2 separate regions of the Homo sapiens genome follow, and region 2 is linked to region 1. The links come from fine-mapping of genetic effects on plasma protein levels. Region 1 holds a variant in brackets. A gene starts in the other region. All regions are shown on their forward strands.

The links. PIP is the posterior inclusion probability: the model's chance that the variant is causal. The UK Biobank Pharma Proteomics Project read protein levels with antibody pairs (Olink). The fine-mapping took linkage between variants from a reference panel, not from the people measured, so its PIPs are less certain.
Region 2: CRYBB2 starts here. The variant in region 1 is fine-mapped to the plasma level of the CRYBB2 protein (UK Biobank, PIP above 0.99).

What each region holds. Positions count from the first base shown.
Region 1 is chr14:72,808,750-72,817,082 of GRCh38, forward strand. The region is part of intron 1 of DPF3 (double PHD fingers 3); the gene reads right to left. Among named protein-coding and RNA genes, the nearest start is that of DPF3, 81 kb to the right of the region's middle. RefSeq lists an enhancer at 1,065-2,264. The variant C/T (reference allele first, on the strand shown) is at 4,692.
Region 2 is chr22:25,215,550-25,223,882 of GRCh38, forward strand. CRYBB2 (crystallin beta B2) reads left to right here and starts at 4,090. Exons shown (of 6, transcript NM_000496.3): 1 at 4,090-4,117; 2 at 5,855-5,934. The coding sequence starts at 5,881.

The DNA.
Region 1 (8,333 bases):
GGGTCTGAACAGCTTCTTCTACCAGGAAACCAGCCAAAGGTCTCCGGGCATGTAAGGACATCTGTTTTCAGAAGCTATGGTTTGGATTTTGGCATTCTTAGGAGTCTAGGAGCAATCCTACTAATTTGGGTTCTAGCTCCAACCATACTACCTACCTGCTGTGCGAACCCAGGCAAGTGATTTTACCTCTCTGAGCCTCTGTTTGCTCATCTGGCCCTCTAGACAAGATTAACTTGGCAGTGCCTTGTAGCTCTAATATTCATACTCTCATAAGACTGGATTTGTTCTCACAGGAATGAATTAGTTCCCTGGAGAGTTGGTTGTTAAAACACCAGGGCCCCCTTGGGTTTCCCCATCTTCACACGTGTCTACTTTCCCTTTGACCTTCCCTGCCATGTTGTGATGCAGAAGGAAAGCCCTCGCCAGAGGACAGGGCCATGCCCTTGAACTTCTCAGCCTGCAGAACCATAAGCTAAATAAATCTCTTTTCTTTATAAATGATCCAGTTCCTGGTATTCCATTACAGCAACACAGACAGACACTCCCACATCATCGTCACACAGGGCTTGGGCTGCCTGGCCCTGGCCACTGCCTGCCAACACCAGGCCTGGTCCCTCCATCATCTAGGACCTTGGGGAACATGGCACCGGTGAAGGGCATGGGGGTTACCAGAAAGAGTGAGAAGTCGGCAGGTCAGCACGGCCACACAAGCCACCCTCTCCCAACTTATGTGCAGGCATGATGGCTCCCCATCCACCAGCACTCCTGAGGCCACTACACCAGGGAGGAAAGAAGTGCATGGGGAGGCCTGGTCACACCTGCCCTTCCTTTCAGAACCCTGCATGTGGCTGATGGCAGGTCCTCGGCGCCTGGTGGAAGAGAAAGGGAAGGTGGCACTGGGCTCCACAGGCAGTGATTCTCAGCCCTGCTTGTCACTGGGAGCTGGTTCCTGGGTCCCACCCCAATCTCTTATGATTCCATAGATCAGGAGGAGACCCAAGAACCCAACTTTTCACTTAGCTCTCCAGGGAATACCAATGCAAACGGCCACTGACCACCCCTTGAGCGCCCTGTGGATGAGAGGGTGGAACTAGAGGTTCTAGAAGCAAGTGCTTGAGTCCCCTCACTAGCTGAATGACTCTGGGCAGTTTACATCTCCTTTCAAACCCTCAACTGCCCATCTGAGAAATGGGGATATAAAAGCGTCTGCTTCTTGGGGTTATTTAGAGAAATACATGAGAAAAAGGATGGAAAGCACTTAGCACTGTGCCTGTACATGTTGAGAATCTATAAGAGAAGATCCCCTCTTACTATTCAGGGGTGACTTGTACAAATGCCTTCTTCCATAGCAATCCCTTACTAAACTGGAGCATTTCATAGGGAAGATGCGAATAAGGGCAATGAAGCCTCAGATACAGAGGGCAGCGGAGTGCTGAGACACCTCCGTGCCCTCCCACAACATCCCAGTGCTGTGGTCCAGCAACATACCCGCCCCATCCCTCCAACTCAGAACATGCTCATTGATGTGCCTGAACCCAGGCTAAATGGGAGCACACCTATAGTGGGGGTTCCCCTGTCAGAGATATGCACTGCAAGGGCCTGCGGTCCAGGACACAGAGGAAGGAAGAGACGGGCGGAGAATGTGAATCACATTCATGCCAGGGTGTGTTCTAATACGTCAGCAAATGTGTACCGAGCTTCCGGGCTGCAGAGGAAGGTGGGCGTGTGTGGGGTTAGTGACTTGAAGGGAAAGAGGGGCATGAAAAAGAAGGGGGTGAAGAGTTAGAACTGGTGCAGCAGCTGGGTCTCACACACAAATGGCATGACTCTACTTCACAGGAACTACTCAGAAAGGGAAAAGAATAACTCTAAGAAACAAAGATCTGCCTCCAAATCCAAGAATGGCAGTAGAAAATAGGGTCCCCCACCCAGCAAGCACCCACATCACGTTTCATCAGAAGAACTCTCTATTCTCAGCCAGGCCTGGCACACTGCCTTGACCTTCCCGATCCTGGAGCTGGGCCCTGGGCTCAGAAGACCCCAGACTGTCATTGCTGGAAACAGAATCATTGCAGATATAGTTAGTCAAGATGAAGTCACACTGGAATAGAGTGAGCCCTAATCTTACAGGACTAGTGAGTTAGTCCATTTGTATTACTATAAAGGAATGCCTAAGACTTGGTAATTTGTAAAGAAAAGAGGTATATTTCACAGTTCTGCAGGCTGTAGAGCAACCACGGTGCCGGCATCTGCTTCTGGTGAGGCTTCAGGAAGCTACAATCATGGCGGAAGGTGAAAAGGAGAGCAGGCGTGTCACATGGTGAGAGCAAGACCAAGGCAGCAAGGGTGGGAAGTCCCAGACTTTCAAACAACCAGATCTTGTGTGAACTAACTGGGTGAGACTTCACTCATCACCAAGTGGACGGTGCTAAGCCATTCGTGAGAGATCCACCCTCATGGTCTAATAATCTCCCACCAGGCCTCACCTCCAACATTGGGAATCACATTTCAGCATGAGCTTTGCAGGGGACAAACATTCAAATCATATCAATTAGTGTCCTTATAAAAAAGGGAAGTTTGCCCCATGAAGGAAGAGATTGGGGTGATGTGCCTACAAAGCAAGGAATGCCAAAGATAAGACTGCCAGCCAAGCCCCAGAAGCCAGCAGAGAGGCCTGGAACAGATTCTTCCTCACAGCCCTCAGAAGGAACCAACCTTGCCAACACCTTGATCTTGGACTTTTAGCCTCCAGACTATGATAAAATAAATTTCTGTGAAGTTACCCAGTCTGTGGCACTTACAGCCACCCTAACAAACTAATACACCCAGAACCTTACTATCCTTCACCACACCGATCACCAATGAGGCAAGTCAGAAATTTCCAAAAAGTCTCCACATTTATTTTTCTACCCAATAAACCAGACATGATAGAGGAATTCAAATATAAACAAGACATAGGCCCTGCCTTCCAGAGCTCCTAGGCACACAAATGTTAGTCACTTTACACTTTGCAAAACACTTTCACATATATTGTCTCTTGTAGATCCCCCCATCTCACATTGAGATGGGAAGGGCAAGCTGTAGGTTACTCCCATTCTGCAGATGAGAACACTGAGTTTTGGAGAGTTGGTGGCTTGCTCCAGGGCACCCAGCCCTGGAGCGGCAGAGAGGGAGCTGCAGTAAAGTCTTGAGTCCAAGACAACATTGGTGTGGCTGTTTTCTTTCAGCCTGTCTTGCTGCCTCTCCTGCCGTCTTGGAACCTCTTGCCTCCTTCAAACAGAAGCCCCTGCACTGAGGTCTCTTGTATCTAAGATCTGCCCCAAGTGAGCTCCAGGAGGCAAGGAGGGAGGCCAGCCATGTTAAAGACCAAGTTAAAGACCAAAGTGGCTGCAGCACCATGAGATACCAGTGTAGTCCCCCACCTTCTCTCATAGTCCCTTACCCTGAGGCTGCTCCCACCAGCCCCGCTTACCTTTTTCCCATCCCCACCCCCGGCCCCCAGCCTCTCCCATCCCACAGGCAGGGCAGGTTCCTGGTAACAGCATTGCCCAGTGTTGTCAAAATAGCGAGGAGCTGGAAAGAATTCCAGAATGAAATCTATGTGCCTCTGCAGCCTCCCAACTGACTGCCACTGTGGCAGCTAAACCCGCTAATGTGCTAAGCGTTTTCTGGCAGGGCCAGGAGGCAGGGTTGGTATTTTGGGAGCTGGGAGGGGCTTGGAGGCAACATCCTCGGCAAGTCTGGGAAGGAGGTGGAGGCAGGGAGGCAAAGGGAACCGACCCAGAACACTTCCCATGACGTCACCGAGAGCCACCTGAGCTGCACCTCAGGATTCCTGAAACACTGCTGGCGGAGCGGAGAGTACGGAGAGTACGCTGGGCCCGGTGGGCAGGGCTCAGCAGGGCATGGAGGCTTTGTAGCTAGGCCTGGGGGGAGAGGGCGCTCTAGTATGCCACTTGTCATGTACACTTTTTCTGCTGACACAGAGCAGTGTGCAATGCGTCCGGGAGGCTGGGCAGCCCAGGGCTGGCCCAAGCTCTGTTTGCCTGAGTTGGCAGTGGCAGGGCCCATGGTGACCAAACAAAAGACGGGAAGCCAAACGCCCAGAGGCTGGCGGGTGAGGCTCCCTGAGAGGGCTCTGAGGATACAGGCACTGGCGAAGAAGGGCCAGGGGCTCATAGGGATAGGAATGGGGTTGGGGGCAATGGGAACTTGCAGGCAGGGTCCCCTCTGGTTTCCCAGACACACCGCATCGCCTCTGGGCATCAGCCTCTCCACACTGTCCTTGCTTTTCGGGGGCTCCTTCGAAAATGCTTCAAACCATGACACCAGGAAGGGGAGCAAACCACCAAATCTGAGATCCAAACAAGGTCCCAGCATTCCTTTGTCCCTGATGGGCTTGGCTCCAAATTCTGGGAGAAACCAGAGGGTTTTGAGAGAGTCAGGAGAGGGGTTCAGGGGACAAAAAATAGGGCTGGTGAAGAATTCCTTCCGGGAGCCGTCTGGTAGCAGGGAGTACCGTGGGTGGCAAGGCCGTGCTGCTCAGGTGAGGGGACATGGTGTCATTCTGGGAACAGATGAGCCAGTAAAACCCTGACAGGATTCAATCTGGAGGAAAAAAATCCCAGCTGATAGGAACTGCTGAGCGCTTGCAGCTTTTAAAGCCCCTCTAGCAAAAGGATCTGCAAAAG[C/T]TTTGCAAACTCTGACCACGCAGCCAGTCAGCCACTTCCCAGCCCACAGCAACGAGAGAGTTTTTGCTACATCAGAACAAACCCACTCACAAATATCTCATCCTGGCCTCCCCCCCGGCACCCATTCCTTTTGGGTCTGTGTGCCTGCCTTCCTCAGAAATGACATTTTGTCAGAGCAGTGAGAGATAGTGTTGCAGGGGCCAAAGGCAGCCAGGGGGCTGGACTGCAACTAGGCTCCCCTGCTCACTAGCGGCTGACCCCAGGCAGGGCACTTAACCTTTATGAATCTCATTTTTTAATCTGCAAAAATGCAAATAATGAAGCTGCTCTTACAGAGTTGGTGAGAGGACTAAATGAGATGATGGATGCTGGGGCTCGAGCACAGAGATGAGGGGCTCCATGACGGCTGGTCCCCCTCCTTCCCACCTTCCTCTCCAGGGCCCTCCGGCACCATAATCAGTGTGGGAAGGATGCAGAACAATGGGAGTTTAATTCAGAGGTTGGCGAGGCAAAGGCATACTTTAATAGAATTCTCTCTCGCCCAGTACATGGTTTCTTGTCCACCCCACCCACCTTTCCCCATCTCTACCGGCTGATAGTCTCTCAGCTAGTAGACCTTTTCTTGTTTAGCAGGGCCACTTTTTTTAAAAACTCCAGACGGGTACCCTCCATGTTGCAGGCGACGTGGCCCTGGATCACTCAACTGACTGTCATTTGAATGGTGCCCCCAGAGTGAGGCAATGGTGCAGCCCTCCTAAGGCCCTTCCTGAGTGTCCCTCCTTCATGAAGATGATTCTGAGGCTTCCCAGGCCTTCACCCTTCTTTGAAAGCCCATAGCAGTTCATATGCACTTCTCTTCTATGCTCACCAAACTCTGCCTTCATCATACTTGGGGGATGTGTGTGAGAGCGAGAGAGAGAGTCCAGCAGGGATTAGATCTGACTTTTATATTCTCTACAGTGCCTGGCACAATGCTAACACATTTGATGAGGCCAGAATTACCCTGATACCAAAACCAGTTAAAGACATTACCAAAAAGAACTTTTTCAATATTTTAATTCTTACCTCATACCCTAGATAAAAATTAACTTGAGCGGGGTGTGGTTGCTGACACCTGTAATCCCAGCACTTTGGGAGGCTGAAGCAGACGGATCTCTTGAGACCAGGAGTTTGAGACCAGCCTGGCCAACAAGGTGAAACCCCGTCTCTACTAAAAATATAAAAATTAGCTGGTCATGATGGCAGGTGCCTGTAAGCCCAGCTACTTGGGAGGCTGAGGAGAACTGCTTAACCGGGAAGGCAGATGTTGCAGTGAGCCGAGATCGCGCCACTGCACTCCAGCCTAGGCGACAGAGCGAGACTCCGTCTCCAAAAAAAAAAAAAAATTAACTCGACATGGATCGTAGAGCTAAATGGAAGACTAAAACTTTCAAACTTCAGAAAGAAAACTTGGAAGAAACTTTTTCTAACCTTGGGTTAAGCAAAAATTTTCTTAAATAGGACATAAAATGCATGAGTCGTAAAGGAAAAAAATTGATACATTGGACTTCACCAACATTTTAAATGTCTACTCTTTGAAAGGCACTAATATGAAAATGAAAACACAAGCTACAGACTGAGAGAAAATATTTGCAAAACATATATCTGATAAAGGATGTTTAGTCAGAATATATAAAGAACTCCTAAAACTCAATAAGAAGACAAATGACTCCATTTCTTTTAAGGTCAAAGAACTGAACAGACATTTCACAAAAGAAAAGATACAGATGGCCAAAAAGCACATCAAAAAAAAAAGGTTCAACATTATTAGTTAGCAGGGAAATGCAATTAAAATCACAATGAGATACCGTTAAACATCTATTATAATGGCTAAAATTTAAAAGGCTGACAATGCCAAGCTCTGGCAAGGATATAGAATAACTACGACTCTTACACACTGCGTGTGGGAATGCTAACTGGTACAGCCACTTTGGAAAGCAGTTTGGCAATTTCTTTTAAAGTTAAATATACAATTATATTTTCATTTCTCCCAGAGATTTGCTCAAAAGAAATAAAAACATATGTCTACACAAAGACCTATAAATAGGAATATTCATAGCAGCTTTCTGCATAATGGCCAAAACTTGGGAACACCCAAGTGCTCATCAGTTGGTAAATGAATAAGCAAGTTGCCATGCAGCCACACAGTGGAACGCACCCATACATGCAGTAACATGGATAAGTCTTAAACGCATGGTATCAGTTCCTATTGCTACTCTAACAAATTACTACAAACTCAGTAGCTTAAAACAACACAGATTTACTGTCTTACAGTTCTGGAGGTCAGAACGTCCGAAATCAGTCTCACTGGGCCAGCATCAAGGTCAGTTTCCTTATCTTTTTCAGCTCCTAGAAGCCACCTGCATTCCTTGACCCATGGCCCCTTCCTCCAAAGCCAGTTGTGTTGCATCTTCTATCTAACTGCTTAAGGGAACAGGACTTTATCAAGGCACAGAGCCACAGCAAGTATGGGAAACATATAAGTAGTTCCATATTTCCAGGGTGTGTAATGTAACATTTCGAAGATAAGGAAACTGAGATTCAGAGAGATCCAATATCTTACCCAAGGTCCAGGACACAGTGAAAATCATGTTCAACCCTAAGGCCTCTGAATCCAAATCCAGAGTCCACGTGAGCCCTCAGACTTCCCTGCCTTGACCGTGGATAGTCATCTCCACCTTGTCTCAGAGCCCTGCACTCCCACCCTTGTACACTGCACCAGCAGCTAAGCCTGTGGAGCCAGGCAGAACCCTGGGCCTCCCCACCTCCCCACCCTGGGACCAACAGATTCCCAGCTCCAGCAGGATAACATCATAACCTTAATAAGATTGACATTTGCATCCTGTTTTATATTCATCAGCATTCTTACACTTACGTTATGTTATCTGGCCTTCTCCATCGTATGAGTCTAATGGTGCAGATATTCTCCACCCCACATTCTCCAACCCTCAGAAAGCTGAGGTACTTTCTTATACAGCAAGTGGGTAGAAGCCAAGATCAGAACCTTACCCCCAACCCACCCCTTGATACCAGAAGAGCCTATTGACTCAGAACAAAACTCAGGCAAACCCCCCACCTAGCTGAGCTTCCCCTCCTTCATCTGCAGGATGGAAAACAGGGTAATACCTGCCCTGCCTATCCTGATACATCAGGCATAAATGGAAAAAAAAAAAAGGAAGTAGTATGTAAAAGCACTTTGGAAATGTTAAAATGCTATGCAAATTATAAGGAACTGTTCTGATTATACTCTCAAGAAATGTCACAAATTTTCTCCAAAAGTGAATAATTGTCATTACTTTTCAACTTCATCCCCTTGAAAAGCCAGTTTCTCCTCCTGTCATCTTTTATTTCTGGTTAAAGCAGAGATGTTATACTCAACATTCCAACTGGAATATCAAGATCAATCTTTAATTCCTCCTTCCAGCTTCACCCTTTCTGAAATCAAGAACAGGCAATTCTCTACTCCACCCACCATCTCATCCTCAGTTTCTCTTGCCATCTGCCCCCCTCTGAAGCTAGAAATCACCAGCAACCATTTTCATTCCTCATCCCTCCGGTCTCTCCTCAGTCAGAGCCAACCTACATGATGCAAAAGCACCACTC
Region 2 (8,333 bases), not on the chromosome of region 1:
TTAATTCCTCTAGCGCCACTGGTTAGGGTCTCCCTGACCGAGCTGGTCTTGGCACCAAGGACCTCATTTCTTATGGGGAAATTGAGGCCTGGAGAAGAAAAACTTCACTAAATTCCCAGAGCTCAGTAGGAAGCTTTATAGTTTAAAAGTTAAGAACGTTTATCTTGAAGTCAGACTGATGTAAGTTCAAGCACTGGTCCTACCACTTCCTGGCTGTGTGACCTCGAACAAGTTACTTAAGCTCTATGAGCCTTAGCTTCCTTATCTGTATTAGGGGACATTAATAATACCTACTTCAAAGATAGTTGTGAGGATTGAATTAATGGAACCAGACAGTTTCAGGGCTTAATCCATAAAGCCTAGTCCTACTACTCACTAGCTGTGCAAATTTGGGCAAGTGGCTTAGTCTCTCTGAGCCTCAATTTTCTCTTTTATAAAATGGAATGATCAATAAATACAATACTTACATCTTGAGTTTGTTGGGAGGATTAAAAAAAGATGAGTATGGACAGTGCCTGACTCATGTCAAGCTCTGATACAATCGAAATGTTAGGAATTCTTTCTTATTTATAAGGACACAGCCAGGTCTTGAATCCATTCATTTACTCAACAAATATTAACTGAGGTCTATTATGGGCTGACCTGTGTCCATAAAAGATATTCCAAAGTCCTAACCCCCAGTACCTCAGAATGTGACCTTCTATTTGGAAATAGGGTCTTTACAGAAGGAACCAATTTGAAACAAAGTCATCAGGGTGAAGTTGCCTAGTGAAGTCACCTAAGCCAACATGACTGGTATCCTTATAGGCACAGAAATTTAGACATAGAATCAGCCATGCACTAAGGGAAGATGATGTGAAGATACAGGGAGAAGACAGTCACGTGATTAAAGTGATGCACCTCCCATCCAAGGAACATGAACAATTACCGGCAAACACAAAGGGCTGGGAGAGACAAGGAAGGACCCTCACCTAGAACCCCTGGAGCAGGCATGGCCCTGCTGACAGCTTGATGTCAGGCTTCCAGCCTCCAGAATTACACAACAATAAACTTCTGGGGTTTTTTGGGGGACATTTTTGTGGTAAAATACTGCATAGCATAAAATTAACCATTTTAACCATTTTTAAGAGTACAGTTCAGTGGCATTGTTATGGGACCATCACCACTATCCATCCCCAGCTTTTCCATCATCCCAAACAGAAACTCTGTACCCATTAAACAATAACTCCCCATTCCCCGCTCCTCCCAGCCCCCAGTAACCTCTATTCTACTTCCAGTCTCCATGAATTTGCCTACCCTAGGTAACTTATGTAAGTGGAATCATACAATATTTGTCCTTTTGTGTCTGGTTTATTTCACTTTGCATAACATTTTCAAACCTCATCATGTTGGAGTCAGAATTTCCTTTCTTTTTAAGGCTGAATAATATTCCATTGTATGGATAGACCACATAGTGTTTATCCATTCATCCGTTGATGGACATTTGGGTGGTTTCCATCTTTCGGCTATTGTGAATAATGCTGCTATGAACATGGGTGTGTAAATATCTCTTCAATTCCCTGCTTTCAATTCTTTGGGGCACGTGCACAGAAGTGGAATGGCTGGCTCATATGGTAATTCTATGTTGGATTTTTTTTTTTTTTTTGAGACAGCCACACTGTTTTCCGTAGTGGCAACACCATTTTACATTCCCAATTTCTGTTGTTTTTAAGCCACTTAGTTTGTGACACTTTATTACAGCAGCCCTGGGATTTATTTTATGTTATTTATTTATTTATTTTCTTTGAGACAGAGTTTTGCTCTTGTTGCCTAGGTTGGAGTGCAATGCCATGATCTTGGCTCACTGCATCCTCTGCCTCGTGGGTTCAAGTGATTCTCCTGCCTCAGCCTCCCGAGTAGCTGGGATTACAGGCATGTGCCACCATGCCCGGCTAATTTTGTATTTTTAGTAGAGACGGGGTTTCTCCATGTTGCTCAGGCAGGTCTCGAGCTCCCAACCTCAGGTGATCCGCCTGGCTTGGCTTCCCAAAGTGCTGGGATTACAGGCGTGAGCCGCTGTGCCCGGCCAGCCCTGGGATTTTAAAACAAGTACCTACTATGCGTCAGGCACTGGGCTCTGGAGATACCATGGTAAACCAGGGGGACAACTTCTTTGCTTTTGTGGTGCTTATCTTCTCATTGGAAAGACAGAAAATAAATGAGTAACAGAATGTTGGGTAGTGATGAGTGCTGCAAAAGGAAAAGCCCAGCTAGGGGGCTGGGGCATGTGTGTGTAGTGTGTGTGCATGCGTGTGCATGCATATGTGCATTAAGAAAATGAGAGACAGGGGAAAGCAGGTATACTTGACCCAGTCTCCAAGCCTCAGATTGGATCAAGACACAGCCTGGGCTGCAAGGAAGGTGTGTGCACTAAAGAAACATGAGTAAAGGCCGGGCGCGGTGGCTCACGCCTGTAATCCCAGCACTTTGGGAGGCCGAGACGGGCGGATAATGAGGTCAGGAGATCGAGACCATCCTGGCTAACACAGTGAAACACCGTCTCTACTAAAAATACAAAAAATTAGCCGGGCGTGTTGGCGGGCGCCTGTAGTCCCAGCTACTAGGGAGGCTGAAGGAGGAGAATGGTGTGAACACGGGAGGCAGAGCTTGCAGTGAGCTGAGATCGTGCCACTGCACTCCAGCCTGGGCGACAGAGCGAGACTCCATCTCAAAAAAAAAAAAAATAGAAAAGAAATGTGAGTAAAGGCTGGGCACCCATGTGGCAGCGATGGGGCCAGTGGTAGGGATCTAAGAGCAACTCACTCTAGGACAGTGGTTAAGAAACAGGCCGGGTGCAGTGGCTCATGCCTGGAATCCCAGCACTTTAGGAGGCCAAGGTGGATGGATTGCCTGAGCTCAGGAGTTTGAGACCACCCTGGGCAACATGTCAAAACCCTGTCTCTAACAAGATACAGCAAAAAAAAGAATTTAGCTGGACCTGGTGGCGCACACCTGTAGTCCCAGCTACTGGTGAGGCTGAGGCAGGAGAATCGCTTGAACCTGGGAGGCAGAGGTTGCAGTGAGCCGAGATCACACCACTGCACTCCAGCCTGGGTGACAGAGTGAGATTCCATCTCAAAAGAAAGAAAGAGAAAGAAAGAAAGAGAGAGAGAGAGGGGGAGAGAGAGAGAGAGAGAGAGAGAGAGGGGAGAGAGAGAGAGAGAGAGAGAGAGAGAGAGAGAGAGAGAGAGAAGAAAGAAAGAAAGAAAGAAAGAAAGAAAGAAAGAAAGAAAGAAAGAAAGAAAGAAAGAGAAAGAAAGAAAGAAAGAAAAGAAAGAGAAACAGCCAGGGGCCTTGAGAATAAAATGCACTCTCCATAATTGGCCTCCCTGGCCCTGCAACATCAGGCCCTGCCCACCTTGGCCACCTGGCACAGGCCCTATTTGTCACATGTCATGCTTTAGCTTTGTTAACCTGTTTTCAGGTCTTCTTGAAATACACCATGCTGGTTCCTTGTATATGGACCCTTTCTGCTTGGAACTGTCCCCCCACCCTGTTCCCAGGCTTCCTCTTCTCCATCCCTGAGGGATGCGCTACCTCCCAGGAGCTTTTCTGAATGGCCTGGGCTGGCGTAGGTCCTCTTCCTGACACTCCCCTGGAACAGAGATTGTCACCAAGTGGATGCCCAACAAATATTTGTTGAATGAATAAATGGGTAGATGAATGAAGCCCAGACTCTGCCAAACCACCCTTCTTTACTTGTTCTTCCCCAGGCCCACTGAGATGTTCCTCTGTCTGCCATGCCTCACGGCCTGACTGACCGTACCAGTGAACCCAGCGTACCCCTGGCCCTGGCAGCCGGACGGCTGATGCATGCAAAGCGGGCATCTCCTTGCCCAGCCGCCTGACCGCCCTGGCGCGGCCGAATCTGAAAGCTAATGACATTATTGTGCAGAGACACAATGTCTGTGGGCATTTGCTGACCCGAGCTTTGGTGAGAGCTTAATCCAGCATTCTCACCCTGCTTTTCGCAGGAGCACAGCGGTCACTCATCTTGGCACCGGCACTTCTGGGGAAGGTATAAATGCCACCTCCCGCTGGCCGAGCTTCACGGCACTCGCAGGGGCTGGTGTCACTGGTAAGATTGCCTCTCTTGCTTGTCTTCCCTTCTTTCTCTCATCCTCACCCCTGTCCGCAAGCATGGGAGCACCCAGATTCTGACAAGTGACTTTGGGCAGAGACTTCAATGCTGTTAGCCTCAGTTTTCTTTTCTGGTAACTGGGAAGGGGGTTAAAAAGCCTTCTTTATTGTAAGGATTCAAGAGAAGTTAGGGGATCATCCAGCACAGTGCCTGGCACACAGTGGGCATTGGGGCAATGTTCTTTATTATTAATATTAAACAGACTATCAGCATCCTTGTTTCGCCAGTCGCTGAGGAGGAGAATGTAACTGAGGGTTTTGCAAGAATCAAACCAGTGACAGTTCAGCATTGTTTCTAGGTGGGTGAGTCAGTTTTCCTCCACATCTGCAATTAGGGGGCACCCACTCTGTGCCTAGCCTCTGGGAGTGCTAGGGGATAGGATGCAGCCACAGGTATGTGACAGGTCCCAGCAACAGGTGATTTCAATGCCACTAAAGCATGGTAGAAATGACTCTAATAATGCCACAATTGCTGCCATTTGCTGCATGCTGAGTGTGTTCTGGGACCACGGCCAAGTGCTTCCGGTTTTATACATTACATAATTGAATCCTCACAACCTGTTCACAGGTATTATTAGACATCATTACTGTCCCCATTTTATAGAACAGGAAGTTGAGGCATAGGGAGAGGATGAGACCTGCCCAGAGTCTCAATTCTGGCAGGCAGCAGAGACTGCTCCTGAACTGGACCAACTGAGCTTCTTCAGTCTGTGAACACTCAGGACTGGGAAGTGATATGGCAGGACCTCAGGCACTCTGACAAGCCCAGAGGGCTGGTTTCTTGCGGGAGAGCAGTAGATTTGGCTGCCAAGGTGCTTAACTGCATTTCTTCCTCCTGGGAAACATCCAGTATTGGCCTTTCATGTGGAAGGGGCTTCTGGAAGCTGGCGTTATCTCTGAAGAGGGAGGCCAGGCTTCCTCTCTTACCCCTGGGGAAACACAGCCTGGTTTGACCACCCCTTCTGCAGGAAGGGGGAAGAGGCTGACAATTTTCCAGGCTTTTCTGATGTTCTCACTAGCTAAGGCAGGTCTACCCTGCTGCCTGCCACAGTGCCTGGATTTCTACCGTCGCACCCATTTCTTCTCTTTCTTGTAATGTGGGTTCTGTATCAGATGATTTCACTAATGGGGGAGTAAAACCAGTGGCAGAGAAGAGAAATCTAGGTACCAGGATGGGGAGAGGAGTCCCAGGGAGAGGGTGGGAGAAGGAGCAGGGGAACAGGGAACTTTGTGAGTTCCTAAACTGGGCACCACCACACCACCAAATACAGCCAATGCATAGGTTTTGTTTGTTCCACACAATTTTATTTAAGAAATTACTGCATAAAGGCAGAAGTTCTGGGATTGACCATTCTATATTCTGTGTGGTATCCATTGTCTGGGGTTGAGTGTTGGGAACCCACTTTGGACCTCATTTAAGCTCTAGTTTATTACTGCTCTCTTTCTTTGAGTAGACCTCGTTTTTCCCTCCTCCTGCAGCTGGCCTGGATAGAAATAAATGAAGCTAAGGACAGAAGTTGAAGTAGCTGCTTACGGACCCCACAGCTCTGGGACAGTCTGAAACCAGGAGAAAAAGAGAATGTTTGGGGCCAGAGGGGAGTGGTCTCAAGGCCCCACAGAGTGAAAAAGCCAGTGGCCCCTCCAGGTCCTCACTGCTGCTTCCCATGTCTTCCAGGTCATTCCTGCACAGGACAGTCCACCATGGCCTCAGATCACCAGACCCAGGCGGGCAAGCCACAGTCCCTCAACCCCAAGGTGGGTACCTCTCAGAGGAGGGGGCATGCAATGCTCCTCCCCCAGACTTAGTTGCCCTTCTGTAAAATGGGCTTGGCATCTTTCTTCATGGGTACCCCCTCTCGACCCCTGCCCCTCTCTGGGACTCAGTCTCCTCTACCCACACAGTTGGAGCTGATACTGAAAGTCCCTCCCCAGCCCATAGCTGGCATGCTGGGATTCCCAGTACCAGCCTCTGGCTTTGGAGACTTCAGTTTCTCTCTCCCTTACCTGTTTTGCCACACCCTATTGTCTACAGGGCTCCCTGAAACTGGAGCAGACCCTCATTCTCAGTCAGAGATGGGATTAGTAGATGGAAGGTGGGTGTGAGTCCTGGCTCTGCACCTGCTGTGTGATCCGGGCCAATTATTTGATCCCTCTGAGCCTCAGTTCCATCTCTATAAAAGGAGGAGTCAGATTTATTGCACAGGGAAGTTGTGAGAGCCAAAGAAACCAGGCTCAGCCTAACACCCGGCCTGGGGTGCGCATCCACCTAACACCAGCAAATAATGCCGCCTTTGATTTCTCATCCACCTGTCCACCCAAGGGCGGCAGGATCTTATCCCAACGTCAGAGGCTTGTCACACCCAGTCTGCCCTCAAACCTCTATCTAGGCACGGCCACCTGACTGCCCTCCTGTGCCTCCCTGCTTTGGTAGCCCCGGGCACAGGTTCCTTCAGGAATGGCCCCTTTGTCTGACTCAGTGCCTCCTGGGCCAGGGAAGCCTGAGCAGATACAGCCCCTCACCTGCTCACCCCAATCTGTCCCTTTTAGGGCTTACTTTCCAGAAGAAGGACAGACAATAAATAAATGAATATATGATTTCCAGTAGTGAGAAGTGCTACAAACAATTGTAAACTAGGGGAAGGGGCTCCTGAGAGTCACAGTGGTTGTGTTAGCTCAGGTGGTCCAGGAGGGTCTCTCTGAGGAGCTGACTTTGAGCAGACACCTGGGTCAAGTGAGGAAGCGGCTATATGAAAATTGGGGGTGCCTTTGCCAGGCCGAGGTGGGAGGACTGTTTGAACCCAAAAGTTTGAGCCCAGCCTGGGCAACATAGTGAGATCCCATCTCCACAGAAAAATGAAAAATGGGGGTCAGGGTTGATGAGAGCATCCAGACAAAAGGAACAGCAGGCGCAAAGACTCCGAGGTGGGAATGAACTGGGTGAGTTTGGAAAAAAGCAAGAAGCTCTGTCCACTAGACCTATAATGTGAGCCACATAGGTAATGCAAAATGTTCTAGTAGCCACATCATAAAAAGTAAAAAGAAATAGGTGAAATTAATTTTCATATTACATTTTATGAAACCCAATATATCCAAAAGATGAGCATGTTAATGTATAATCAATATAAGAATTATTAGGCAGATATTTTACATTATTTTTTCCATTCTGAATTTTCAAAATATGATGTGTATGTTACGCTTATAGCACAGTATAAGTAATAATATGGACTAATTACATGTGCTCAGTAGCCATATGTTACTAATGGCTGCTGTGTGGGACAGTGCAGGCTTAAAGGATTGGATAATTTGTAAAATTTTGCCCTCTACTCTATTGATTAATAACAACGCTATTGAGCTCCTGGGTCCTCTGAGCTTCTGGGCTTTCAAATGCATGGAGAAACTGCTCTTCCTCACCTGCCTACCCCTATTCAGGTGGGCACCCCAGGCCTGCTACCTCAGAAACTGCATTTGATCAAGATCCCAGTGTTGTGTGCACAGGTTAGAGTCTGCAAAGTGCTGCTTCAATTTCATCTGCATCAGACAAGTCTGGGCTTCAATTTCAGCTCTTCCACTTATTCACGTGGGATCTGTAGCATGTCTTTTAATTAACATAATTATGTCTCCCACAAGCAGCGCAAATACTATGTGCTAACCACCCACAAGCCCTGGTCTCCCAGGCCAGGGTAATAATAAACTCTAGCCCCGAACTTCCACATTCTTGAGTCCCCATTTGACAGATGAGGGACCTGAGGCCCAGAGTATTGAATTGCTTTTTAGGTTTGTGCAACTGGATGTAACAGAGGACACATTGGAGCCCTTGTCTCCTGACCCTATCTCTGGCCGAGTCAGTGACCGTAAAGGGCTGGGTCACTGACTGTAAAGGCTGGATTGAGCCCGTGGAATTTGCCTCTAAGCCCTGTGCCTTTCCCTTTCTTTGTGTGGCTAATCCCAGGCCTGGGAGAGAGGGCTATGTTTACCCAGCCTGTGCTGACCGTGTCGATTCTGTAGCTGCCCCGACTGAGAGTGTGCTGACCTGAGCCCATCTTTTCATCCAGGGGCAGTTTGCTGGGGAAGTGTGGCTGGAAAACCTCTGCCTCCAAAATTCTCACTGGAGGCCGGGCGCGGTGGCTCACGCCTGTAATCTCAACACTTTGGGA